4 linked regions of the Homo sapiens genome follow. The protein of the gene in region 1 purifies or fractionates together with the protein of each later gene. This does not show direct contact. Each region holds a gene or a part of one and is shown on either strand. Other genes may lie near its edges.

Region 1 (3,931 bases):
AGCAAGCGAGGAGCATGCCTGTGTGCGTGTGTGTGTGTGTGTGTGTGTGTGTGTGTGTGTGCAGGCAAGGGTGGGGGAGAGGGGTGATTCTTAAAGGGCCACCGCACAATTAGCCCCCTCAGCAAGGCCCCTAATGATACGTCTAATTAGCAGCCCCCTAATTAGCAACAACTTAGGCATAATTACAAACCCACCAGGATCCAAAGCAAAGGCTCATGCTCCCTTCTCCCTCCGCCTCCCTGGCTTTCAGGAGAAACAGGGGCCAGCCGGGAGTCAGGAATTCTTCTAAAGCATCAAACCAAACCCCGCTCTCTCTGGGAGGAAGCCTCGGCCTGGGAAGTCCTCCCTCAGGTTTAACCACCTGTCCTTCCTGCTGCAGTCCTCAAGAGAGACCACAGCCAGGTGATGCGGGTTCTCATGTCCACCCTCCTAGCCCAGGGGCTGGGTCAAGCACAGCCTAGTGCAATCCCTTTTTCCTGCAAAACCTGGTTTCTCGCTGGGGCCTTGCGAGAGGAGCAGTCAGGGAGAGAAAGCACTAGATAAATATTTGTGAAATGAATGACCAAGAGGTCTGAGCCCTGTCACCAGGGACCGTGGGCTCCCTCTGCTCCTGGCTCCTGCCTCTCCCTCTCCATCCACCAGCAGCCCTGAAACCCAATCTGCTTTTAGAATCCAGGGGCAAAAGGATCAGGTGGAGCCCAGGGTGGGAGCGGGGAGGGCAGATGGCAGGTACCGTCTCCCAGGGCCATCTCTCCCTCCCTTCGTGGGCGTGCGGCCAGCTGGGTCGGCAGTGAGCACCCCTGTTCTGCCTCACGTGCCTCTTAGGTCCTTGATCAGAAGAACAGGACTGCATGCCTGGGGGTGGGTGCAGTCTGGCGTGCCAGGTAAGACCCGTCCTTCATATCCCTCACGCTACCACCCCACAGTGGGGCGGCAAGGGAGGGTGCTTTTCTGACTGTGCCTGTGTTGGGGGGCTGGCCCTTGCAGGACCGAGCTGGGGACTCAGACTTCTAAACATGCACATTTACTGCCCCAGCATGAGCGCAGGCGCTCCCATCACCTCAAAATGGTCCAGTGTGGGGATCACACCACAGAGCTTGGGTGCTCGAGGCTGTGATACACTGATAATACGTAAACTGAGGCCCAGAGGAGGAACAGGGCTCTTAACCTAGTGCTCTTTAAAGCCATCTGAAGCCCCCTCCGTGGGCACTGTCACACAGGGCTGGGACCTCACCTGCAGCCAGGGAGACATCATACACACACACACACACACACACACACACACACACACACACCAGGGCTACAGGCACAGCCTCGTACCTTTTCGCCATCACTCACTCTCTTGCCCACCTTCTCCAGGGCCCCCTTCTCTCAAGGAAGGCAGACAGTGTGTTGGCCAGGGCCCTCTCAGCACCCCCCACTGAGACAGTGTGAGGCTGGCACACCAGGAAAGGGATGGAAGTGAGACTGCAGGAAGGACTGGCCCGGTCTAACTCAGTACCTAGTGCTTGCCCAGAGCAGGAAAGGCGCTCAGTAATTATCAACAAGAATGAATGAATCAAGAGCTGGACAAACAGCAAGAGGTATGGAAGTGAGACGGCAGGAAGGACTGGTCCAGTTACACGAGGAAGACTGGGGAGGTTAGATTGAAGGGAGGTCTGGTCTCATCTCTACTACAGAGGCTACCGGTTAAACTGCAAGAAGGACCGGCCTCAGAACGCCAGAAACAAGGCAGGGGGAGGTGGGCTCGGTCCTCAGGGGAGAGCTGGGGTGGGTGCCGGCTGGGAGGAGTGGAGAGAGCAGGGGAGCTCTGCTGAAGTGGGGAGAGGAGTTTAGAGGACTCCAGGCCTGGGGGAGCCCACTCTGCGGGTGGGGGGGTCTAATTCCTCCAGGTCCCCCCTGCCAGGGGCGGAGACAAAGGTGTGTGGGAGGAGGGTGCACTGGCTCCCAGGGAGAGCCAGAGAAGAGGAAAGAGAGAGAGAAACAGAGACTGAGATATCCAGAGACAGAGATGGAGACGAGGGGGAGATGGGGAGGGAGGGAGAGAGAGAGAGAGAGAGAGAGACATGCGGACATGGGAAGAGACAGAGACACAGAGAAAGCAGAGACAGAGAGAGACACAGGAAAGCTGAGACAAGGGAGAGAGGCAGAGACACAGAGACACAGAGAAACAGAGATGGCGCAAGAGGAAAGGAGAGAGAAACCCAGGACTTAGAGACAGAGCCCCAGAGAGACTCCGAACAGACCCCGGCACAGAGACACAGAGAGAGGGAGACAGGAGTGAGAGACTGAGAGACAGGGACTCCCAGAGGCGGCCAGACTCTGCTAGACAGAGACCCCTGAGACATGTGGAGAGACAGAAAGATGAGACCCAGACACAGGAAGGCGGGGGCAGAGGTAGAGAGCGCGAGGGGGGGTGCCCCAGACGGGGTGGGGGCGGGGTGTCCTCGCCCCCCAGTACCCAGGCGGTCCCCCTCCCCAGCCGCCCGAGAACCAGGAGGGACTGAAGGTGTTGGGGCGGCTGGTGGCACTCCCACCCCACAGAAGGTACGCGTGCTGGGCCAGGCAGCCCCCCACCTCCATAAACCAGCCCAGGGAAGCCAGCTCCAGGCTTCCCGAACCGCCCCCACTCCGCACCTGGGGTAACCCCGTCCTTTTCCCACGCCCCCACCTCCCCACCAATGGGGTCTCTTACCTGCGGCTACAGCCTGGAGCAGGTCCCCCCAGCGCTGGGCTGGCAGTGGTGGGCGACTCCGCCCGAAAGAGAGAGAGAGATTGAGAGAGAGAAAAGCCTGAGACTGAGAGGGAGAGCCGGGGAGGAGGGGAGGGAGAGGGGATAGAGGGAGGAGAAGAGGAGAGGGGAGGGACACGGGGGAGGGGGAGGCGGCGAGGGAGCGAGGGAGGGGGAGGAGCCGGAGAGAGGGGGAGGAGGCGGAGGCGGGCAGAGGGAAGGCGGTGCGGGAGGCGGGGGGAGGCCCGGGGAGGGGCCTGGGGGAGCAGGGAGCCCGAGCCTCCTCCCCAGCCTCCGGGTTCAGCACCAGAGGCAGGGGACAGCACCGGAGGGCGCTCCTGTGTGTTTCAGAAGCAGCCCCCGCCCCCCAACACACACACACACACACGCACACACACACACGCACGCAGTCTCCCAGCCATACAAGGGCCAACAGCTACAAATAGTTACAGACTTACAGAACTAGGGGGAGGGCAAGAATGTTTAGCTGGAGTCAGATCCAAATTCACATACTGTGCCTGCACAGCCTCACAAAGGAGGCCAGAAACAACCACAAAGACACCCATTAATAAGAATAACAACAGCTGCCATACATACAGGCAGCCCTGACCACGTGCCTGGCATCGGCAGCACATTATTATTATTTGAGACAGGGTCTCACTCTGTCACCCAGGCTGGAGTGCAGTGGCACGATCTTGGCTTACTGCAGCCTCAACCTCCTGGGCTCAAGCAATCCTCCTGCCTCAGCCTCCTGAGTAGCTGGGACTACAGGTGCCCGCCACCACCACGCCAGGCTTTTTCCCTCCATTTTTTTTTTTTAGGAGATGGGATCTCACCATGTTACCCAGGCTGGTCTCCAACTCCTGGGCTCAAGCGATCCTTCTGCCTTGGCCTCCCGAGTAGCTGGGACTACAGGTGCCCACCACCACCACGCCAGGCTTTTTTTCTCTTCATTTTTTTTAAGAGACGGGGTCTCACTATTTTACCTAGGCTAGTCTCCAACTCCCGGGCTTAAGCAATCCTTCTGCCTCGGCCTCCCAAAGCGCTGAGATTACAGGTGAGAGCCACCGCACAGGTGAGAGCCACCGCACCTGGCATGTTCTAATGTTTTTTATAAATTTAGGTAAATGCTATTATGAGCTTCACTTACAGACAGGGAAACCAAGGCATGAGGTGGTAAATATGGCTCCAGATTCTACA
Region 2 (3,500 bases), on another chromosome or scaffold:
CTCCAACCTCATGTACCTGACATCCTAGTGGAAGAGACCAGTATGTACAAATAAAATGATGAAATAGTTGATAAGATTTTGGCTAACAAGTGTTTATGGAGGAAAAAAAGGGTTAAGAGTCAGAGAGTAGGCCAGGCGCAGTGGCTCACGCCTGTAATCCCAGCACTTTGGGAGGCCGAGGCAGGCGAATCACGAGGTCAGGAGTTCGAGACCAGCCTGGCCAACATGGTGAAACCGTCTCTACTTAAAATACAAAAAAAATTAGCTGGGCGTGGTGGCGGGCGCATGTAATCCCAGCTACTCAAGAGGCTGAGGCAGGAGAATCTCTTGAACCCGGGAGGCGGAGATTGCAATGAGCCGAGATCGTGCCACCGCAATCCAGCCTGGGTGACAGTGTGAGACTCCGTCTCAGAAAAAAAAAAAGAGTCAGGGAGGCCTCTTTGATGTGGTGACATCTGAGACTGGTATAAATTTGAAATTTGCTTCTTCAATTTCTCATTAGGGTTCTGAATATAGAAGTTAGTTATTTGCATACAGGTTGGGGCATCCCCAGATTTATTGTATCTATCTATGTAAGTGTTTTGGAGAAATCTGAGTTACTGTGTTGATTATACTTAATTGGTTACCTTTCAATAGATTGTTTACCTGCTTATATACTTCTTTGCATGTCTAGATTGCTCAGGAAATTATATTCTTTTCTAATTAAGAATTTTCTAGTCTATTCTGTTTCAACTCTTCCTAAAAGTCTTTCTAAAATAAATTTACACCCATTTCTGCCCCTTTGTAAGTCAGACTCTCTTTGATATGTTAGGATTTTGCAGTGCTGTGGGCTTTTCTTAAGTTCTCATTGAAGTGTTTAGATTTGGGTGGGAGGTTGGGCTTCATGTATACTCTATATTGGAAATTGCTGTTCGGACTAAATAACTTTTCTTGTTAATGAGATCTTTCTCATAAAGAAATTAGGAAAAAAATAATGGTTGGTGTGTTTCAGTTAAGGATTTAACACGTTAGGGCCTATTAGAGCTTTAAAATCCCTTTATAATAGTTGAAGTTTTTCATAATCTGGGAGAATGGGCTTTGGTGGGGCTGCTAATTCTCACTCACCATGGGAAGATCGTATGTATCCCAGACAGCAGAAGCTCCTCAGTGTACAGACGAAGCAGTCTCATAGTTGTCCCACTATGTGAATAAACTCATCTTTACACAGAAAGGAAATCACACCAACATCCAGACCACAAAGTACTGCTATTTTTAAGCATTTCCCAAACCGGGATTCTAGGAACATTGCTTGTACAGGATGCTAATAACGATGTACTGTGAAAAAATTGTTCTCTGATGGAAATTTAAAATCTTTCTTCACTACATTACATCTCAGAGTCCCTGAAATCTTGTTGTGATTCTCCTGAGGAGCTTTGCGGGGATAGCGTGTGGCGTGAATCCTAAACATAGTCAACCACAGAGCTCCTTCAGCAGCTCTCACAGCTTGTGTTCGAAGGTGTGCCATCTGGGAAAGGGGGACAGTTCGCTTCTGGGCAGCAAGGGCCCTGCCCTGTCACAGAGGGCGTGTGATGTTCTGGATGCCATAAGCTTTCAGTAAACAGTTGTCTGAGCGAAGATTTATAATGTGGCCACATGAAGAAAACAAACATTGGGTAGCATTATAATGCCTTTCATTCTCCAGTGCCTAATTATTGATTGGTCTCATAAAAATAAAACAGTTCATAGGACTCTACATAGCACCCGTGGGTCCCTTCCCCAGGTGGCACAGGAAGCCTGCAGAGGAAGTTTGTAGGTAAGGATCGTAAATCTCCTTAGGGAGCATTTTGAATTTAAACGAAAATGTCCAAAGTCATAGGCAGGGGCGCCTGTTCCTTTATGTGTCAGCCCTAAGTGGCTTCGCTAGCTCTATAGAACCAGTGTTGAAAACCACATGCAGTTTAGTGACTAAGCCCTTCCTTGCTTTTTCCTTCCCAGAAGTAGAAGTAGTTACTCTAACAAACCTAGATTCTGTAATCATTATGGATAAGTGGATGTCAGTTTATGGAAAGAGAGTCAAAGTCCTGTTTACTCTTTAGTGGATTTTTTTTTTTTTTTTTTTTTTTTGAGGCAGAGTTTCGCTCTTGTTGCCAAGGCTGGAGTGCAGTGGCACGATCTTGGCTCACCGCAACCTCCGCCTCCCGGGTTCAAGGGATTATTCTGCCTCAGCCTCTTGAGTAGCTGGGATTACAGGCATGCACCACCACGCCTGGCTAATTTTGTATTTTTAGTAGAGATGGGGTTTCTCCATGTTGGTCAGGCTGGTCTCGAACTCCTGACCTCAGGTGATCCGCCCCCCTGGGCCTCTGAAAGTGCTGGGATTACAGGCGTGAGCCACCGCGCCCAGCCTGTTCAGTGGAATTTAAACTTGTACATATAGAAGTGAGAATTGAATTCATTCAGAGATTCAGCTGCCTTATAGTTTCTAGTCCTTAAACTTCTAAGCTGTTCAATGTGTAACTAGATTGCATTTTAAGGATAACCTGCAAGATGTGTAATGCAGTTATGCACCACATAATGACATTTTGGTCAGCAATGGATTGCACAGATGACGGTGGTCCCCTAAGATTGTAATGGAGCTGAAAAATTCTTCTGTCTATTGATGTCACAGGTGTTGTAATGTTATAGTGCAAGGCACTACTCACATGTTTGTGCTGCTGCTGGTGTAAACAAACCTACTTCACTGCCAGTTGTCTACAAGTAAAAGCACATACAATTATGTACAATATGTAACTCTTGATAATAAATGATGTTGTTACTGGTTTATGTATTTATTATACTATACTTTTTTTTTTTTGAGACTCAGTCTTGCACTGTTGCCCAGGCTGGAGTGCAGTGGCGTGATCTCGGCTCACTGCAAGCTCCGCCTCCTGGGTTCATGCCATTCTCCTGCCTCAGCCTCCCGAGTAGCTGGGACTACAGCTGCCCGCCACCACGCCCGGCTAATTTTTTGTACTTTTAGTAGAGGTGGGGTTTCATCGTGTTAGCCAGGATGGTCTCGATCTCCTGACCTTGTGATCTGCCCGCCTCAGCCTCCCAAAGTGCTGGGATTATAGGCGTGAGCCACCACGCCCGGCCTATACTGTACTTTTTATCTTTATTTTAGCGTGTATGCCTACATGTTAAAAAAGTTAATAGTAAAACAGCCTCGGGCAGGTCCTTAAGGGGGTATTTCAGAAGGCATTGTTATCTTAGGAGAAGACAGCCCCATGTGTATTATTACCCCTGAAGACTTTCCAGTGGGACAAGACATGGAGATAGAAGACAGTGAAATTGATGCTCCTGACCCTGTGTAGGCCTAGGCTAATATGTTTGTATCTTAGTTTTTAACAAAAAGTTTAAAAAGTAAAAATAAAAAAAATTAAAATTTTAAAAATAGAGAAAAGCTTATAGAATAAGGTTATAAAGAAAATATTTTTGTACAGCTATACAAAGTATTGTGTTTTAAGCTAAGTGTTATTACA
Region 3 (3,980 bases), on another chromosome or scaffold:
TGCCCAAATGCAGGCCAGGGACACTGGGGGCTCGGTTTTGTTCTTGATTTGTCTCCAGGGCTTGGCACAGAGCAGAAGCCAGGAAACGTGGGTGATGGAAGGAAACATGAACAGGGAGACGCAGGACGTGAGGAAAAGGGAGCAGACGCCTTGGCCAGGGGCCCTCTGGGGAGAATCCTCTCATCTGGGGTTAACCATTGTTAGCAGCAAAACCTTTTAAACAAAATCTTACACAGAACCCCACAATACAGTTATCTATTTATTTTGAGACAAGGTCTCGCTCTGTCATCCAGGCTGGAGTGCAGTGGCAGAGTCACGGCTCACTGCAGCCTCAAGCTCCCAGGCTCAAGCCATCCTCCACCTTAGCCCCTCAAGTAGCTGGGACTACAGGTGTGCACCACCATGCCCGGCTTTTTTCTTTTTTTTAAGAGATGGGCTCTCGCTATGTTGCCCAGGCTCGCCCACTCCCTTGTTTTGTTTTGGTCACACAGTTCAGAGAAAATCTTGACATGTGTAAAAATTAGGAATAGGAACAAAAAAAAAAATCAGGTATCCTGTTCAATGAAGCAAAAAAGTCATATGATTTCATTTCCAAACCGTGAAGCTGCATTCGACTGGAACATCCTAAAAGGTAGCACACAACACATCTGACTTTGAGTGGATGTTTTGCTGCATTTTCTAAGCGTTCCAATATCATATTAAAAAGTCGAGGCTGGCTTGCAGACCCTCTGAAGCCCCAGGTGGGGTTGCCAAGTAAAAGAACCCCGGAATAGTTTTTTACGTCTAAGAATGTCTTGTTAAATTTGTATTTCAGGCATGGCACAGACCTAGGCTGAAAAACCGACTCACTGTTTGTCTGAAATTCACGTTGAACCTGGCGTCGTGCACTTCCATTTGCTAAATGTGGCCACCTGGCCCTGTTCAGGGAAGGGGTTTGGGGAACGCGCGGCGGGGTGGGGCGGGGCCTGGGCGGAGCCTGCCGCGCCTGGGCGGGGAGATGGCGTCATCAGACTCTTGGGGGCGGGGCTGCCACGCATGGGCGGGGGCGGGGGCGGGGAGAGAGGGCGGGGTCAGACGTGAGGGGGCGGGGCGGAACAGAACTGGGCGCGCGGGGGCGGGGCCGGGCGCGCCGGCGCACGTGACGGTGGTTGCCAGGGTGAAAGTTCAGCGCGCCGGCGGCACTTCCAACATGGCGGCGGCCGGGGCGGCGGTGGCGCGCAGCCCGGGAATCGGAGCGGGACCTGCGCTGAGAGCCCGGCGCTCGCCCCCGCCGCGGGCCGCACGGCTGCCGCGGCTGCTAGTGCTGCTAGCGGCGGCGGCGGTGGGGCCGGGCGCGGGCGGTGCGGCGCGGCTGTACCGCGCGGGCGAGGACGCCGTGTGGGTGCTGGACAGCGGCAGCGTGCGCGGGGCCACCGCCAACAGCTCGGCCGCGTGGCTCGTGCAGTTCTACTCGTCGTGGTGTGGCCACTGCATCGGCTACGCGCCCACTTGGCGGGCCCTGGCTGGGGATGTGCGAGGTGAGGCGCGCCCCCGCGCGGGGACCCCCCGACCCCCGGGACCGCGGCCTTCCGGGACCCCTTGCGACCGCCCCAGAAGGCGGGTCCCGGGGCCCCTCCCCCGTATTTCTTTCCTTACCGCAGAGCCAGTCCCTGCCCCACAGAGGCACCCGACTCGGACCAACCCTGGCCTTTCCAGGGGCGGGAGACTAAGCCAGCTGCTCCCCATGTCTCTCCCAGTTAATCCCCGTTAGATCCTGACGAGTTGGGCTGTCTGAAGTCAAAATGAAACCATTCTCCCGCAGCCCTCACCGCACGCTTGGGGATAGGGAAGCCCTCCCGTATCCCAGCTCTCAAAATACCTATGTTTTGAGCCCCAAGAACTTCATTGACCTTCCAGGCCTCCTACCCTACCTGTTTCCTAGCGTCCACACACCCCATCCCCAGTGCCCAGAATTCCTGTTCTCTGAGGATCCCTCATTCCTATTCCACACTCGTAGCCACCCCATTCCCTTTGAACCTTCATCATTAACTTTCTGGTTCGGATCGCTGGCCATATAGTGGGTGCTCAAAGTGAACCCACAACTTAGAAGTCCAAATACTCTGGAGACTTCTCTATAATACCCCAAAACAACCTATAAAGCAATTTTTTTAACTCTACAAAGAATTTCATTGGTGGGCTCCTTGATCACAGATGCACAGCCTTTGAGAAATCTTTCACCAAACTGCTGGTAGTGTTCCGCACTTTATTGTTTAGTGCTTTCATCTGGTCGCACGTTGTTAACCAGTCACGAAGTTACTCGCCTGCTCTACAGGTTAGAGTTGGCGTGGGAGGGGGCATTCACAACACCCTTCCCTTAAAATGGTATTTAAATCACTGAAGTAGGAGGTCCTCCCGACCCAGTGAGGTTTGGCAGGACTTCCTGTGTTGTGCTAACCTCAAATTACATGTTTCAGTGGGCAAGATCTGTAACAAATTGCTACTCTTTCTTCCTGCACCTTTGTTTTTATGCCTTACACCCAATCCTGCTGTATTTTTCTCATCGCAAACAGATTTGTAAAGAAACTTTTTTTCAAGTCTAAGTAGGGCTTTTGTATGTTACTGTAAATGGTTATCTTTAAAATGCATTCTCCTCTTAGAGAGCTGGGGCCTTTTGATTCTAATGGATTCCTCCTCTTTGATCTCATGTTTTCTTATGTCCCTGTTGACCTGACTCAGAACTGAGGTCAGAGACTGGAAGAGATGGACAGAAAAACTGTTCAGTGGGGTTTTTAGACACTGCTTTTAGGAAAACAAACAAGTAATTCAATCACGTAGGGAACCCTTCAGTTCTTGTGTGTTATTCAGTGGCAGAAACAGATATGTTCATTAAAATGCAGGTGGCCCTGGCAGGACTTGGTCACTTTTTTTGTGGGTTTTGGTTTTGATTTTTTTTTTTCAGTTGAGTCGCTGAAGTCTAAAGATCGTACCAGATTCAAATATTGCAAATTCTGTAACCGAAGCAGCACATAGGCAGCCTTGAGAACTGTCCCTGGAGCTCAGAAGGAAGGCCCCTCCTGAGAGCCACACAGTAACGTCCATACCCAGTGGTGTGATGAACTCAACTCAGTAAGCCTCCTTTAGTGAGGCTGACTGTCTTCCCAGTCACGACAGGAAGAACAGGCTTGTGCCTGAGACTGAGACTGGAGGAGGATATGGCTGAAAGTGAAAGACAGCGGTGACCTGACCAGGCAGCAGGGAGAGGGCTTCAGGGAGCCCAGGCAGAGGGTCCTGTTGGCTAAAAAGCCAAACTATAAAATACTGAAAGAGGTTTGTTCTGAGCCAATAAGTGTAGTGGCCATGGCCAGGGGAACAGTGTCAAGAGGTCCTAAGAAAGTGTGCTCTAGGCAGTCACGTTAATTTGATTTTATACATTTTAGGGAGACAGAAGTTATAGGCAGAGAGACATAAATCAGTACATGTAAGGTATAGGAAGGGGTAGGTTTACAGATCATAGGTGGATTCTGACTGGCAATTGATTGAAAGAGTTAAGCTTTGTCTAAAGACTTGAAGTCAGCAAAGAGAAATGCTTGAGTTAAGCTAAAGGGGCTGTGGAGGCCAAGGTTAAGTAGATGAAGCCTCACAGGCAGCAGCCTTGGGGAGAATAGAGGGTAAATGTCTCTTTTCAGACCTGAATGCTGTCAGACTCGTTAAATGTCTCCTAGATCCAGGAAAGACCTAGAAAGGGAGGGAGATTCTCTACAGATGCAAATTTCCCTCACAAAAGACAGCTTTGCAGGACCATTTCAAATATGTCAGGGAAATAAATGTATTTGGGGGTGAAATATTTTGATTTCCTGCAGGGTGTGCTATTTGTCATGTGGTGCTGTACCCGAGTCAGGCTGGAGTTTGGTGTCGTTGCTGCTGAGGCTGTGCTGTCTGTCTGTGATCTCTGTTTCATCACGCTGGTCAGCTCTGCCTAAACTCCAAAGGGAGGTGATGTA
Region 4 (3,500 bases), 2.7 Mb from region 1:
GCTTGGGGATGGGAGGAGAGGGTCTGGGAGGAAGTGGGTCCTCTCAGCGGAGCTGGGATTCCCGTGGGAGAGGCTTGAGGGAAAGGCAGGAGTCTGTTGGGACCAGATCCAGGGGGGCCTCCAGGGCAGCTGGGCGTTTAGAAGGACTTCTCCAGGGGTATGTGGGAGCGAGGTGGGGACGGCAGTTGCATATAGGTCTATCGGGCAGAGGTGAAGTCCTGCTGTTGGGGAGACAGAAATCTCCCACTGTTTCTGTGACTGATGTGGTGGGGCAGTGATGGGGACATTTGAGGCAGTGGATGAGAGTAGGGGCCGGGCGTAGTGGCTCATGTCTGTAATCCCAGCACTGTGGAGGCCAAAGCAGGAGGATCACTTGAGCCCAGGAGTTTGAGATCAGCCTGGGTAACATAGGGAGACCCTGTTTCTACCAGAAAAAAAAAAAAAAAAAAAAAAAAAGGCTGGGCCTGATGGTGCGCACCTGTGGTCCCAGCTACTGAGGAGGCTGAAGTGAGAGGATCACTTGAACACAGGAGTTGAGGCTGCAGTGAGCTGTGATTGTGCCACTGCACTCCAACTCCAGCCTGGGCAATAGAGCGAGACCTATCTCTAAGAAAAAAGAGAGAGAGAGAGAGAGAAAGAGAGAGAGAGACAGAGAGAGAGAGAGAGAGAGAGAGAGAGAGAGAGAGAGAGAGACTAGGGGCAGACTTCTTTAGCAGGAGGGGGCCACGCAGCAGGATAGGGAGAATATTTTTCCTGCCTGGTGCTTGGACCGCGTTGGAATTGCCACTACTGCCCATGGCCCGCTGGATGGTGGGAGGGGCCTAACACATTCTAGTTCCCCCAGCACCTGGTTGCCTCCGAGATAGCTGGAGCTGGATCCACCCCTAGGCCAGGAGCTCCTCCAGGCAGGGCTCCCAGCCTACTCTTCTCTGGGTCCTCAGGCCCACTCGGGGCGGAGTCTCGTACTTGAAAGTCCTCAGAGAGTTGAATGAATGGGTCCAGTCTCCCCATTTTATGGAGAAGGAGTCAGGTTCCAGAGAAGGAAGGAATTGTTCACTGAAGCAGTGAGATTCGAGTCTATTCTGCAGGCATGAGATAGGCGTGACCAGAGGTGGTCAGGGAACCTGAATGACAAAAATCAGGTCAATTCCCACCCTGGGCTCATATCTTAGAGTAAAAGCAAGGTTGTACCTTTTGTCCCCTCTCTTACATCCCCTCCCACCCTCTGCCCCTCGATCATTTGGCTCTAGCCATGCTGCCTACCTCACAGTGACACAGCCACACAGATGCATTGTGGCCCCAGGACCTTTGCACTGCTGTCTGGAATGATTTTTCTCCCAACAACCCCCTTCCTCGCTCCTGTCATCTCCCTTGGGTCTTCATTTAAATGCCACACCAGAGAGGCCCTCCCTGGCCACCCTAATGAAAACTTCAACATCCTCAACCCTAACATTTCCTGTCCCCTGGTTTATTCCTCCCCTTGGTATTTATCACCATTTAATGTACTATCTGGCCGGGCATGGTGGCTCGTGCCTGTAATCCCAGCACTTTGGGAGGCCCAGGCGGGCGGATCACCTGAGGTTAGGAGTTTGAGACCAGCCTGGCCAACATGGTGAAACCCCATCTCTACTAAAAATACAAAAATTAGCCAGGCATAGAGGCATGCGCCTGTAATCCCAGCTACTTGGGAGGCTGAGGCAGGAGAATCTCTTGAAACCGGGAGGCAGAGGTTGCAGTGAGCCAAGATCAAGCCACTGCACTCCAGCCTGGGTGACAGAGCAAGACTCTGTCTCAAAAAACAAAAACAAACAAACAAACAAACAAACAAACAAACAAAAAAACCCAACAAACCCACCAAACATACCATATTTGGTTTCTGTAAAAAAATAAAAAAGAGAGAGAGAATTTTTAAAAAACAAAAACCATACTATCTAATTTACATTTTTAATCTTTTTATCTGTCTCCTGGGATTACAGCAGCTCTGTCAAATAGCAATATAATACAGGCCAGATGTGTAATGTAACATTTTCTAGTAGCCACATTTAATGATAAAAGTAAAAAAGGAACGGGTAACATTAATTTAATGATATATTTTATTTAACCCAGTAGATTGAAAATATTATCATTTCAGCATGTCATCAAATATTTAAAATCTCAGCAAACTATCTTTTTGTTGTACTAAGTCTTGGAAATCTGGTGTGTATCTTACACTTAGAACTCCAGATGGGGATATTTATATTTAAATTTTAAGATGGGGCTCGGTGGCTCACACCTGTAATCCCAGTACTTTGGGGAGCCAAGGCAGGAGGATCGCTTGAGCCCAGGAGTTTGAGACCAGTCTGGGCAACATAGAAGACCCTGTCTCTACAAAACAAATTTAAAAATTAGTAGGCATGGTGGCATGCCTGTTAATACATTTATTTTTTAATTAATAAATTTCAGACATGAATCACCTGAGGCTGGGAAGTCAAGGATGTGGTGAGCCGTGGTTGTACCACTGCACTCCAGCCTGAGCAACGGAGTGAAACCTCATCTCAAAATAAAATAAAATAGATTGAATTTAAATGAATGAAATTGAAAATGTGTTTCCTCAGTGACACATGCCACATTGCAAGTACCCGGTAGTGCACAGGTGGTGGTGGCTTCTGCAGTGGACAGCCCGGGGCTAGAAAGTAAACTTTTGGAGGCAGGCGTCTTCTTCCAGCTTGTCTGTTGCTCCATTGTCAGTGCCCAGAACTGAGCCTGGCCAGGAGTGGTGGCTCACGCCTGCAATCCCAGCACTTTGGGAGGCTGAAGAGGGTGGATCACCTGAGGTCAGGAGTTCAAGACCTGCCTGGACAACATAGTGAGACCCTAATTTCTACAAAAATTGAAAATAATTGGCCAGGCGCGGTGGCTCACACCTGTAATCCCAGCACTTTGGGAGGCCGAGGCGGGCAGATCACCAGGTCAGGGGATCGAGACCAACCTGGATAACACAGTGAAACGCTGTCTCTACTAAAAATAGAAAACAATAGCCGGGTATGGTGGCAGGCGCCTGTAGTCCCAGCTACTCAGGAGGCTGAGGCAGGAGAATGGCGTGAACCCAGGAGGCGGAGCTTGCAGTGAGCCGAGATCGTGCCACTGCACTCCAGCCTGGGCGACACAGTGAGACTCCATCTCAAAAAAAAAAAAAAAAGAAAATAATTAGCCGGGGCCGGGTGTGGTAGCTCATGCCTATAATCCCAGCACTTTGGGAGGCCGAGGCAGGCAGATCACCTGAGGTCAGGAGTTCGAGACCAGCCTGGCCAACATGGTGAAACCCTGTCTCTACTAAAAATACAAAAATTAGCTGGGCGTGGTGGCAGACGCCTGTAATCCCAGCTACTTGGGAGGCTGAGGCAGGAGAATCACTTGAACCCTGGATGCCGAGGTTGCAGTGAGCTGAGATCACGCCATTGCACTCCAGCCTGGGCAACAAGCGAGACTCCGTCTCAAAAAAAAAAAAAAAAAAAAAAAAA

Evidence for each region. Proteins that work in one complex are often made in the same cells at the same time.
Region 2: the proteins of SLC8A2 (region 1) and MYO1B purify together in Homo sapiens (affinity purification with mass spectrometry; one large-scale study listed by BioGRID and IntAct). This does not show direct contact.
Region 3: the proteins of SLC8A2 (region 1) and QSOX2 purify together in Homo sapiens (affinity purification with mass spectrometry; one large-scale study listed by BioGRID and IntAct). This does not show direct contact.
Region 4: the proteins of SLC8A2 (region 1) and MYH14 purify together in Homo sapiens (affinity purification with mass spectrometry; one large-scale study listed by BioGRID and IntAct). This does not show direct contact.

What each region holds. Positions count from the first base shown.
Region 1 is NC_000019.10:47,469,094-47,473,024, forward strand, and holds the start of SLC8A2 (sodium/calcium exchanger 2 precursor), read right to left. Parts: upstream 2,801-3,931; 5' UTR 2,696-2,800; intron 1-2,695. UniProt on the Homo sapiens protein: Mediates the electrogenic exchange of Ca(2+) against Na(+) ions across the cell membrane, and thereby contributes to the regulation of cytoplasmic Ca(2+) levels and Ca(2+)-dependent cellular processes.
Region 2 is NC_000002.12:191,416,404-191,419,903, forward strand, and holds part of MYO1B (unconventional myosin-Ib), read left to right. Parts: intron 1-3,500. UniProt on the Homo sapiens protein: Motor protein that may participate in process critical to neuronal development and function such as cell migration, neurite outgrowth and vesicular transport.
Region 3 is NC_000009.12:136,243,013-136,246,992, reverse strand, and holds the start of QSOX2 (sulfhydryl oxidase 2 precursor), read left to right. Parts: upstream 1-1,180; 5' UTR 1,181-1,189; coding exon 1,190-1,517; intron 1,518-3,980. UniProt on the Homo sapiens protein: Catalyzes the oxidation of sulfhydryl groups in peptide and protein thiols to disulfides with the reduction of oxygen to hydrogen peroxide. May contribute to disulfide bond formation in a variety of secreted proteins.
Region 4 is NC_000019.10:50,206,622-50,210,121, forward strand, and holds part of MYH14 (myosin-14), read left to right. Parts: intron 1-3,500. UniProt on the Homo sapiens protein: Cellular myosin that appears to play a role in cytokinesis, cell shape, and specialized functions such as secretion and capping.